Linked DNA regions of Homo sapiens. The protein of the gene in region 3 purifies or fractionates together with the protein of the main gene of each other region. This does not show direct contact. Each region holds a gene or a part of one and is shown on either strand. Other genes may lie near its edges. The genes, in order: IQGAP3, MAML1 and FRYL.

What was found.
Region 1: the proteins of FRYL (region 3) and IQGAP3 purify together in Homo sapiens (co-immunoprecipitation; one large-scale study listed by IntAct). This does not show direct contact.
Region 2: the proteins of FRYL (region 3) and MAML1 purify together in Homo sapiens (co-immunoprecipitation; one large-scale study listed by IntAct). This does not show direct contact.

The regions. Positions count from the first base shown.
Region 1 is NC_000001.11:156,531,066-156,534,565, forward strand, and holds part of IQGAP3 (ras GTPase-activating-like protein IQGAP3), read right to left. Parts: coding exon 3,436-3,500; intron 3,077-3,435; coding exon 2,944-3,076; intron 2,811-2,943; coding exon 2,708-2,810; intron 2,042-2,707; coding exon 1,915-2,041; intron 183-1,914; coding exon 95-182; intron 1-94.
Region 2 is NC_000005.10:179,735,642-179,739,363, reverse strand, and holds part of MAML1 (mastermind-like protein 1), read right to left. Parts: intron 1-3,722. UniProt on the Homo sapiens protein: Acts as a transcriptional coactivator for NOTCH proteins. Has been shown to amplify NOTCH-induced transcription of HES1. Enhances phosphorylation and proteolytic turnover of the NOTCH intracellular domain in the nucleus through interaction with CDK8.
Region 3 is NC_000004.12:48,778,057-48,781,878, reverse strand, and holds the start of FRYL (protein furry homolog-like), read left to right. Parts: upstream 1-1,599; 5' UTR 1,600-1,801; intron 1,802-3,822. UniProt on the Homo sapiens protein: Plays a key role in maintaining the integrity of polarized cell extensions during morphogenesis, regulates the actin cytoskeleton and plays a key role in patterning sensory neuron dendritic fields by promoting avoidance between homologous dendrites as well as by limiting dendritic branching.

The DNA.
Region 1 (3,500 bases), on a different chromosome or scaffold from region 3:
GGGTGAGGTTCAGAGGAGGGAAACAGCAGCGGTGCAGGTGGGATGAGGTGGGGGATGAATGAGACAGAACCTGTGGGCCAGCCCGGCTACTCACTTGCTCTCTGGAAGCCGAGAGGGACAGGATCTCCTTGAGGGTGTCCCCAGGATGGAACTGTATGATATCGGCCAACAGCTGCTTGGTGCTGCACAAGGAGGACAGTGACAGAGGAGAGGTAAGGGGCAGGGGAAGGGCCTGGACATGGGACTGGCCAGAGGTCTGAGAGTAAGTGGACCGTGCTCTATAGCATGGCTGCTAGGATATAAGGAGAGAGAGCGAGGGATAGGGGATGTCGTTGCCTGGAATACCTTCCCAACAAACTATCTGCCTTTGAGTCCTTCAGCTGAGCACACATGTCCTTCCCACCCAGCCATCCCTTCTCCTTAGCTCTCAATGCATCTGACACCCACCACCCTCTTGGTGGTGCTCTGTGTTCAGCCCTAGCCCGATCCTGCTCTCAGCCCTTTGATGGCAGGACAAAGATGATACTCAGCTCACTTGTTTTTTTTTTTTTTTTTTGAGATAGAGTTTCACTCCTGTCACCCAGGCTGGAGTGCAATGGCATGATCTCGGCTCACTGCAACCTCTGCCTCCCAGGTTCAAGTGATTCTCCTGCCTCAGCCTCTCAAGTAGCTGGGATTACAGGTGCCTGCCACCACACCCAGCTAATTTGTGTATTTTCAGTAGAGATGGGGTTTCACCATGTTGGCCAGGCTGGTCTCGAACTCCTGACCTCAGGTGATCCACCTGCCTCGGCCTCCCAAAGTGCTGAGATTACAGACATGAGCCACCGCACCTGGCCAGCTCACTTGTTTATTGAGTGAATGAGTGGGTGCAAGGGGTTGCCTTGTTGGCAGGAGCTTGAGCTGGCACTTTGGCTCCTCTTCTGCCCAGATGACCAGCTCACCCCTACTGGGAGTCCTCCCTCACTTTTGTAGAACTGGGGAAGAAGAGCTCCATGCCCATCTCCTGACCATCACACTCAACAAGAATGCGGAATTAGGCTGGGCGCAGTGGCTCACGCCTGTAATCCCAGCACTTTGGGAGGCCAAGGCAGGCAGATCACTTGAGGTCAGGAGTTCAAAATCAGGCTGGCCAACATGGTGAAACCCCATCTCTACTAAAAATACAAAAATTGGCCGGACATGATGGCGAGCACCTGTAGTCCCAGCTACTCAGGAGGCTGAGGCAGGAGAATCGCTTGAACCCAGAAGGCGGAGGTTGCAGTGAACTGAGTTCGTGTCACTGCACTCCAGCCTGGATGACAGAATGAGACTCCATCTCAAAAAAAAAAAAAAAAAAAAAGTGGAATTAGAACATGAGCTCTACAACCCACTGGCTGTGGAACTTTGGATAAATCACATAACTACTGAGTCTTTCCTCAACTATGAAGAGGGGAAGCCACCATCTACCTCATAGCTTGTTTCTAAGAATAAACGATAACTTATTAAAAAAGCATTTGGGCCAGGCGCAGTGGGTCAATCCTGTAATCCTAGCACTTTGGGAGGCTGAGCCAGGTGGATGGCTTTGAGGCCAGGAGTTTGAGGCCAGCTTGGGCAACATGGCGAGACTCTGTCTCTACTTGAAAAAAAAGAAAAAAGCATTTGGTAAACAGCACGATATGCAAACACCTGCTGTTGCCAATATCTTCACCATTCCTTTACTTTCAGTACAACACAGAGCAAAAAGCTGAGGATACCAGATGGAAAAGAGCCAAGGCTGCAGCGAGGGGAATAAAGGTAGGCTTCAGGGAGAACTTCCTGAAGGATAAGGGAGCCCAGGAAGAAGGTGGAATGGGCGCCTCAGAATAAGGCCATTTTACTGGCCTCAGGGCTGGGGAGCTCAGGTATGCAGGGGCAGAGGCTGGCATCACCCACCTCAGAAGCAGGCTACGGGTGTTGGAGTCATCAGCATCTGCCTCTAGTCCTTCAAACTTGTTGGTCAGCGTCAGGGACACTTCTAGCTTGCTCAGGTCCGTGTGCCCATCTGCAGCGATGCTCTCACCTGAGGTGTGGTGAGGAATGAGAGGGAGACAGGCATACACACACACATGCGCACACACACATACACACACACACATGCACCGATGGGGTCACATTAAATCAGCTGCTCCACATGCCCCTCTTCCAGGAAGTTTTCCCACACTGGCCTGCAGAACTACCCTGTGTCCCCAACCCTTAGCACCGATGGAAGGGCTGTTACCCACAGAGCATACCCTTGTGTTACTGGGGCTGTGCCACCCCCACACCCTCAGCCCTGGGTGCCCTGAGGGTAGAGGAGCTGTGCCTCCCTGAGCCTGCAGCTCCTGGTTCTCTCCAATCACCATCTTCATTCTGTCCTTCCTCCCAGTAAGTTGGCTTCCTCCTATTCCATGGCCCGGAAACCCCTCCTTCTCAGAGAAACCTAATGAGGCCCTGATCCCTGTGCCTCTTTCAGATCATTTCATTGACCGTTTTCCATGATGATCGTGGGTCCCTCTACTGTCTGTCTACCTTCTCCACATCAATCTGTGTCCCTGTGCCCATGTCAGGACCAGAGGGAGAGTATGGAACTAGCCGCCTGGCACAAGACCTAGGCTGCATGGGCACGCTCACATGCCCTGCCTGCCTGCCTGTCCCTCCCTCCATGCAGGTCCCCTAGCTGGCCTCAGCTGCTAAGGAGGGCACGTACCAATAAGGTCAGGGATGGTGGGCAGCTCCCCAAGATCCTCCAGGAGCTCATGCAGGGGGTCTTGGTGATCAGGGGCAATGCAGTCCTGGTGCTCCAGCAACAGCTGCAGGACGGAGAAAGAAAAGGAGATGCAGGGTCTGAGCCAGGTCTTCCCTCTGGGGCCAGCCCACTACCCCATCACAGGCTACCAAACCCTTGCCCACCCAGCCAACACCCTCCAGATCTCAGCCCCTCACCCTGTGCGTGTTGACCAGCTCCCCCACGGTGATGTACACCATGGGTTTGGCCACAGCCACCATGTCTGAGTACTCGTCCACTGCAAAACGCTCCTCTGGCTCTGGCACCTGGCAGGCTCTATGGATGAACTTCCTGTCCAGAGGGCGGGCATGTGAGAGAGCGGGGAGGGCCAGCACCCCACACATCTTCTGTCCCCATCATTTCCCCAGCCTTCTCCAGTGATTGCTCAGGCCAATTTGGACTCTCCAGTCTCAGCTTCTGCCCTCTGTCCTGCCCTACCTCTGTCCCAGTGACCCCTCAAGACAATCTCTCTTAATAGTCTCCTTTTCTCTCCACTGGGGAGTCCTTCCAACAACCTATCCTCCACCCCGCTCATTATGCTCATCCCTTCTATTTATGCCTCTTGTCCTCATGGATTCTGGAGGGGACAAGTGGGATGTCAAAGGTGAGAAGAGGGAAGAAAGGGGACAGAGAGGAAAGGGACCCAAGACCTGAACTTGAGGTGTGTTTCCTCCAGATAGTCATTCAGGACCCGTAGGTGCTGGCTCTGCCCAGA
Region 2 (3,722 bases), on a different chromosome or scaffold from region 3:
TATTCTATTTGAGAGATGGAGTCTTGTTATATTGCTAAGCCTGGTCTAAAACTCCTGAGCTCAAGCTATCCTCCCACCACAGCTTCCCAAAAGTTCTGAGATTACAGGCATGAGCCACCATGCTGAGCTGCATATTATAATTTGTGTTAATTGTTGTACTGTTATTTTTTTACTTTTTTTTCCAAAAAATATTTTCTATCTACAGTTGGTTGAATCCGCAGATGCAGAATGCGCAGATACGGAGGGCTGATTGTACTCTGGCCCACAGCAGGTGCTCAAATATTTGCTGCATGAATTAATAAGGGAAAATAGTAAGGAGACTGAGAAAAAAAGTCAGAAAGCTGAAAAGGAAATCAGAAGAGAGGAGAAGCTAAGAAAAGGAAGAAGTCACGAAGAATGATGACTAAGATGCCAATGAGGCTGGGTGTGGTGGCTCACGCCTGTAGTCCCAGCTACTGAGGAGGCTGTGGTGGGAGGATCACTTGAGCCTGGGAGGTTGAGGCTGTAGTGAGCCATAATGGTGCCACTGCACTCCAGCCTAGGCAACACAGTGAGACCCTGTCTCCAAAAAAAAAAAAAAGATGCCAATAAATTTGGCAAGTCCATCCTTGGTGTCCTTTACGGAGGCAACTTCAGAGTAATAGAAGAGGTAGAAGGCATATTACCATAGGCTAATGAGTAAATGAGAAGTTCAAGTGGGAAGGGCAAAGGGAAAGAAGAATATGGAATACTATTTTGACAGTGAGAAAACACAGGACTTGTCAGTGTGGAGAATATTTGTTCATAATTTCAAGCTGAAGGGAAAGACTCAGTTGGGAAGGGAGATACTGAAGACAAAAAAGGAAAGAGGGTTCTAGACAAGGTCTCAGGCATTACAGGAAGAAATGAGATCCTAAAGCCACACTGATCATCTTTTTAAAAAAACTAATGCCCCACATGATTACAGTACAGTATCTGTTTTATATTCAGAAATATCTACTTCCTGGAAATAATTTGTTATTTCATAATTCTTACAAGAGTTTGGTCTACAAAATTAACAGCTTTCTTAACTCTTAAAAGGTACACATGGGGTGGTTTGGCAGCAGAGAGCTATGAGGTGTGCAGCATACTCTCAGGTGGTTCAGAGAATAAAAGTCTGAGAGAGAGAGAAAGAGGCAGAGAGTGGGAGAGAGAGAATGTGCAAATGATAACAAATGGGGCACAACAGTGACAACAGGTAAATCTAGGTAACCAGATGTTCTTTGTACCAAACTTAGAGCTTTTCTCTAAGTTTGACATTATTTACAAATAAAAGGTTAAAAAAGAGAGAAAGAAACTTTACACACCTAAAACTAAGTAAGAAAATCAACTTTCGGCCAGGCAAGGTGGCTCACACCCATCTCTACAAAAAACTTTAAAACCTAGCCGGGTGCGGTGGTGCACACCTGTAGTCCCAGCTACTCAGGAGGCTGAGGTGGGAGGACCCCTGGAGCCCAGCAGTTCAAGGCTGTAGTGCCCCACGATCGCGCCACTGGGTGATAGAGCCAGACCCTGTTTCAAGAAAAAAGGAAAAGAAATGAAAACCTAATAGACTCATTCCTTGAAAATTAGAATAGAGAAAAAGCCTGAAACAGTGTTTCTGATTCATCTCTAACAGACTAAGCAGATAGTGGCTAAGACTTCGCTGTGGTGGGATATCCTAAGAAAACAATAATCTGAAGTGAAGTAAACTCTAGCAGTAAATCTGATCCCTTCTCAGTCATACAAATGGGTTGCTGGTGAAGTAACTATGAAATGACTGCCAAACAGTATATAGTTCACTTGGAAAAAACTTAAGAACTTATAATATTCCTTAAGTAAGAAATATTAATGAGATCAAATACATGGAGTTGTCAAAAATAACAATGACTAAGAGGTACCTTCTTTCCATCTCTTTCTGCAAAGCTGTTTTCTCCAAGCCAAAATCGTACATACTCAAGGACTCTCTTCCCCCCTGAATTGAAGGAGCCACTGTTTTCTTAATGATACTTATCTTCTGTTCCGATGACCCCATTCCAAGGCCAAAGAGCTCAGCTAGACTAACTTGGAGTCCAAATGCAAAGCGTCCCTCTTCCTAGCAGAGACACAGAAAAGCACATCCACCGTAGAGTTTAAACTCAAGAAATCCATAAGTCAAGGTTTAATGTGATAAAAAGACATCACCTTAACATGGCACATCTGATTAAGCTCTGATATCAAAAGGAATGACTGACAAATTAGATTCAAATTCTAACACACTCAGAATTAATTTCTCTTCAAACAGCATGCCCAGTTTCCCCCACTGACTCAGGACTAAAAAAAATCATACAGGGTCTAAATTCTTAGAACAACTTTAAACAAAAATTGAATCATTACTAATATACCTTTTTTTTTTTTTTTTAATTTGAGACGGAGTCTCCCTCTGTTGCCCAGGCTGGAGTGCAGTGGTACGATCTCAGCTCACTGTAACCTCCGTCTCCCAGGTTCCAGCGATTCTCCTCCCTCAGCCTCCCGTGTAGCTGGGACCACAGGCGCACGCCACATGCCCAGCTAATTTTTGTATTTTTAGTAGAGACGGGGTTTCACCATGTTAGCCAGGCTGGTCTCGAACTCCTGACCTCAGGCGATCCACCCACCTCTGCCTCCCAAAGTGCTGGGATTACAGGAGTCAACCACTGCTCCCGGCCCCCCTAATATACTTTCTAGGGAGGATTCAAGGCAACTATTTGTGTATTAAACTATGATTTTTATGAGCTTTCATTATTTACTTCAATTGCAATGACCACGAACTACTCTTAAAAGTCCTTCCTTACACAGGCCAAGCGTGGCGGCTCATGCCTGTAATCCCAGCACTTTGGGAGGCCAGTGCGGGAGGATCACAAGGTCAGGAGATCGAGACCATCCTGGCCAACATGGTGAAACCCCGTCTCTACTAAAATACAAAAAATTAGGGGAGCGTGGTGGCACAAGCCTGTAGTCCCAGCTACTTGGGGGGCTGAGGCAGGGGAATTGCTTGAACCTGGGAGGCGGAGGTTGCAGTGAGCCAAGATGGCACCATTGCACTCCAGCCTGGCGACAAAGCGAAACTCCCTAAAAAAAAATAACAAAAGTCCCTCCTTACAAGAGTTGTTACTATGAGCCATGAAAGGTGGCTCATGAAGTTACATCAACTTGCTTTTTGAAGTTAGTGTATAGGAGGAGAGATTACTGAGTAAAGCACTACCAAGTTTCTATCAATAATTCAACAAACAGGCACTTAAGATGCACCTCAGATGTGTACTACCCAAGTGTGAGCCCTCCCTGCCTCCAAGAGCTGACAGTCTAGTTGAAAAGATGCGACCTAAAGTAACAAGTGACCATGTGCTAAAAATAAATAGCATAGGCCGGGCGCGGTGGCTCACGCCTGTAATCCCAGCACTTTGGGAGGCCGAGGTGGGTGGATCACGAGGTCAGGGGTTCGAGACCAGCCTGCCCAACAAGGAGAAACCCTGTCTCTACTAAAAATACCAAAATAAGCCAAGCGTGGTAGTGTGCGCCTGTAATCCCAGCTACTCAGGAAGCTGAGGCAGGAGAATCGCTTGAACCGGGGAGGCAGAGGTTGCAGTGAGCAGAAATCATGTCACTACACTCCAGCCTGGGTGACAGGGCGAGACGCTGTCTCAAAAAAAAATAAATAGGCTAGGTGCAGTGGCTCACACCTGTAATCCCAGCACTTTGGGAGGCCG
Region 3 (3,822 bases):
AGGCTAAGCATAGGGATTTAGTTATAGGGACTTAATAGGGAGGATGTGTGTATCTGTGAAGGCCATATAAATGCAACCCAGATAGTTCATCGTCTCTTGCCCCCACTAGTGATACCTAAACCACCTTCCTGCAACGTTCCCTTTTGTTTCCTGCTCTTTCATATTTTCGGGAATCCTCATGAAATTTTTCACCTGTATTTGGGGAAAAGTCCTATGAACTACCAACTACTGATGTTTACTTACCCTTCTCTGTCATCATCAAGCCCCTTTTCTAGGGTACTGCTGAGCACTGACACTTCCTTGGCACCATTAGATTATACTGGGGTATCACTGCAAATGTACTAAAGCCCCCGGGGTACACAGTCTTCAAGGTTCATCGGCAAAGAGGGAGAGAACACATAACCATTTTCCCCTAACATTCTTAGATGGGTACCGAAGCTGTACCTGTACTCAATTTTAGTGGAAATAAACCTTTTAGTTCTTACAGCTCCAGTGGGAAACTGGGGAAACTCTAAAGCAGACCCCGCACTAGGCTTCCCCATAATTTCTTCTCTTTTCAATGCGTGAGGTTCTGCTCCATGGTCAAGCTTCTGGTATCAGATTCCCTCTTTCCCTTAGACAGACTCGTTTTCTCCTGAGAGGCATCTCAGTTGTTCAAGTGACCTGGGGTGTTTTTCCTACAGTTCTAGCAAGGGGGAACGAAGTCCTACACTTTGAGGATGGCATAAGGGTACCATCTACTTAATTTTTTCAAAAAAGTAACAGGTCTCGTGGAAACGCGGGAACGTCACAGAGGACGTGACTTAAACGGAACTTGTAATGGAAATGATTTTCTAAATGAACAATTGCGAGACAAGCAAGGAAACCTCCAGGTTTGCAGATAACTTGATTAAAGCTCTTCCGGGTGGCAAAATGCCAGTGCAATCAATGGTATGAGTAGGGCGGACAGTGGATGAAACTTGTTGAGTAAATCTCAGGAGGAATTAGCACTGGACTTTCAGGTATTCTAACTCAATTCTAACCATTCCATTCTCTGGATCATTGGATAAGGTTCCGCAGGATCCGGGCGCCAGCTCTGGATACATTACTGATCGGGAGAAAATTTTGAATTTTTCTCTTGTCCCTTTCCAGCTTTCCTCAATATAGGATATGAGTTTGTCCTCGACCCCTAACAACATTTAAAGGTAAAGTCGCTCCTAGAAGGCAAAGCGGAGAGGACTTTGCGGCTGTGTTTCTCAAGCCCGTAAAGAGAGAGTAATAATGGTAGGGAGCGTGCAGACTAGCTCTTTCCTTGCCCAATCAAGTGTACAGGAAGATGTCCTTTCACCAATAAAAATAAAGTTCGCTTTCCGGAGGCGGGAGGGTGAGCCTTGACTGCCAGGGCTCCAAAGCAACGTTAGAGGCGAGGGCAGAGAATGATTAGAGGGAAGACCAACCCGGGAAAAGGGGCGGGGAGAAGGTAGGAGCAACTTTGAGCGGCGGCTGGCCAGGCCAGTGGAGGGCGAGGACTGCTGTTCCTGTTGTAGTGTTTCTCGCCAATCAGGAAGGCCAGGGGGCGGGCGGGGTAGGGAAGGGGTGGGAAGACCTCGCAGCACAGCCGGGCGCCCGTCGGGCTCTGGGAGAGAGCGAGAGAGAAATCCGGTTAAAATCAGAGTCGGAGGGAGGTTTAACCACAGATCGGTTCCGATCGGATTATTCCTTAAAGGGGACGCGCCATTGTCAAGAGAACGGAGCCAGGGGCCCGAGGGCGGGGACCGGCGGCGCTGGAGGAGCGAGGCAGCTGTACTAGGACTGGGAACGGGTAGGTGTTGACTGGGGAAAGGCGCTTCATTTTACTTTCTCTTCCAGCCCCGGGGCAGGCGCCGGGATGCCCGCCGCCGGCAGCCCAGCCTGGGCGGGAGACGAGGTCGTCGGCCCTCGCCAGCTGTCCTTCCTGGTGGGCGCCGAGGGAAGGCGGTCCAGGATGGCTGGCAAGCGGCGCGGCGCGGCCCGGGCCGGCGCTCGTAACGGACACCAAACCGCGGCGCAACCCCAGCCTCAACCGAAAGCCCGCCCGAGCTCCGGCGGTTCCGCCGGCAGCGCCGCGCGCCCGTCTCTCCCGCACGTCCCCTTCCCCTCCAGTGCCTGGCTCTTCTCGCGCGCGCCCGGGTACCCCTCGCGCGCCGCCTTCTCGCGCGTCCTGCTCTGGTCGCGCGCCGCCTCGCCACCGACTCGCGGGAGCCGCCCCGCGGGAAGGAAGGCGGTGGCAGAGGTGGAGGAAGACCGGCGACCACGGCTCCGCCGCCTCGGCTGGGAAGGGAGGGCTGAGGAGCAAACTTAGCGCGGCGGCTGGCGGGCCCCGGCGGGCAGGGCTGGCGGGGACCGGCGGAGCGCGCCAGCCCAGCCGGGCATTGTCCGCCTTTTCCCTTGCTCTGGTCTCTCCGCCCACTGCTCGCGGTCCTGGGGAGGGGTGCGGGCGCTGTGCCCGCGCAGCCCCGGGCCGTTGGCGTACCCCGGGACCCGGAGTCTTCCGGAGCCGGAGCCAGCCCTGCGGACACCGCGGCCACCGCCCGCGAGCTGACTCGGCCTGTAGATTGCCTGCTGCTCTCAGCCTCGGCACCGGGCAGGGTGCCTGGGCGCTGAGCTCTTCTTTGCAACTTTTATTTGCCGTTTGATGGAAGTTGTTGCTTCCGGGCGGCAGGTTCTTTGGGCACAGCCTGGTTTCCTGCGTTCTGGAGAGGCTGGTTTCTAGGGCGAAATGATTTATTGCTGCCGGTCTTTCCTGCCATCCTAGTTTAGTTCCTCGCCACCTAAAATCGCATTTTTGTGGATTTGCAATGATATGGGAGCATTAATCTTTCCTAGGCCAAGATTTGAAAAGAAAAAAAAGGGGGTGGGGGTTAGGGTGTGTGCTGGTGAGGAGCAAGAGTTCTTAGTAGAGCTGAGTTTGCCCTTACCTTTGAACTGCGGAAAATATTACTTCGATTCACTGGCTGGGGTTCTTTTGGAAGGGTAGGGGAAAAAAGACACAGCAAGACAGGTTGCCAGGGTCTGTCGGATTGGGGGGGAAAAAGGGTTTTGATGGAAGTAAAGTTGGTTTTATAAAATGCTGTGCTGCCTAGGAGATATCGTCTGTAAAGTTGATTCTGCTACTGAATTTACAGCCATTATAATTAGTACCAACAGCTTTTACTATTGATAAAAACTAGTATAAGACGTCTTTTCATCTTGAGCATTATCACTCTGCTTAATCTGTCAATACTTGCCGAGGAAATCAGAGATAGCACATTCCTTGTTAGAGGCCTTAGTGAAGAATGTTTTCATAAGCATTCATTTTTGACAGTTTCTTCTTGTGCAATACTTTATGTAGAGTACTTGCATGTGCAAGTTACAACCGTATAAACAAAGTAGCAGTGGGTGTGTTATTCTCTGGTCTTTTTTCTGCTACTCATTATCAAAAATAGCATTCCATCGTGTCTTGTCTTCCACTCTGAATTATTTTGTAAAATTAGTTCTCTAAAAGAGGGAATTCTGTTGGAACATGTGACCCAGTTTTTTTTTTTTTTATTAAAGCAGTCCAACTTTTTAAAGCGTTCATCGATTAATTTATTGTCTAGTAACTTCGGAGTGGTGTGGAACATTGTAAATTCACAGGCTCAGCAGTAACAATAGAGAAACTACTTGGGAAATTGGAAGCCAATATCAGATAATGTTTGAAATAAAAATCTATTCTTCTCACAGAATTTAGGAAATAAAGACACACAAAAACAAATTCTTTGGGTTCAAGTGATCCTCCCACCCCAGGCTCCGTAGTAGCCGGGACTACAGGTGGGCACGACTGCG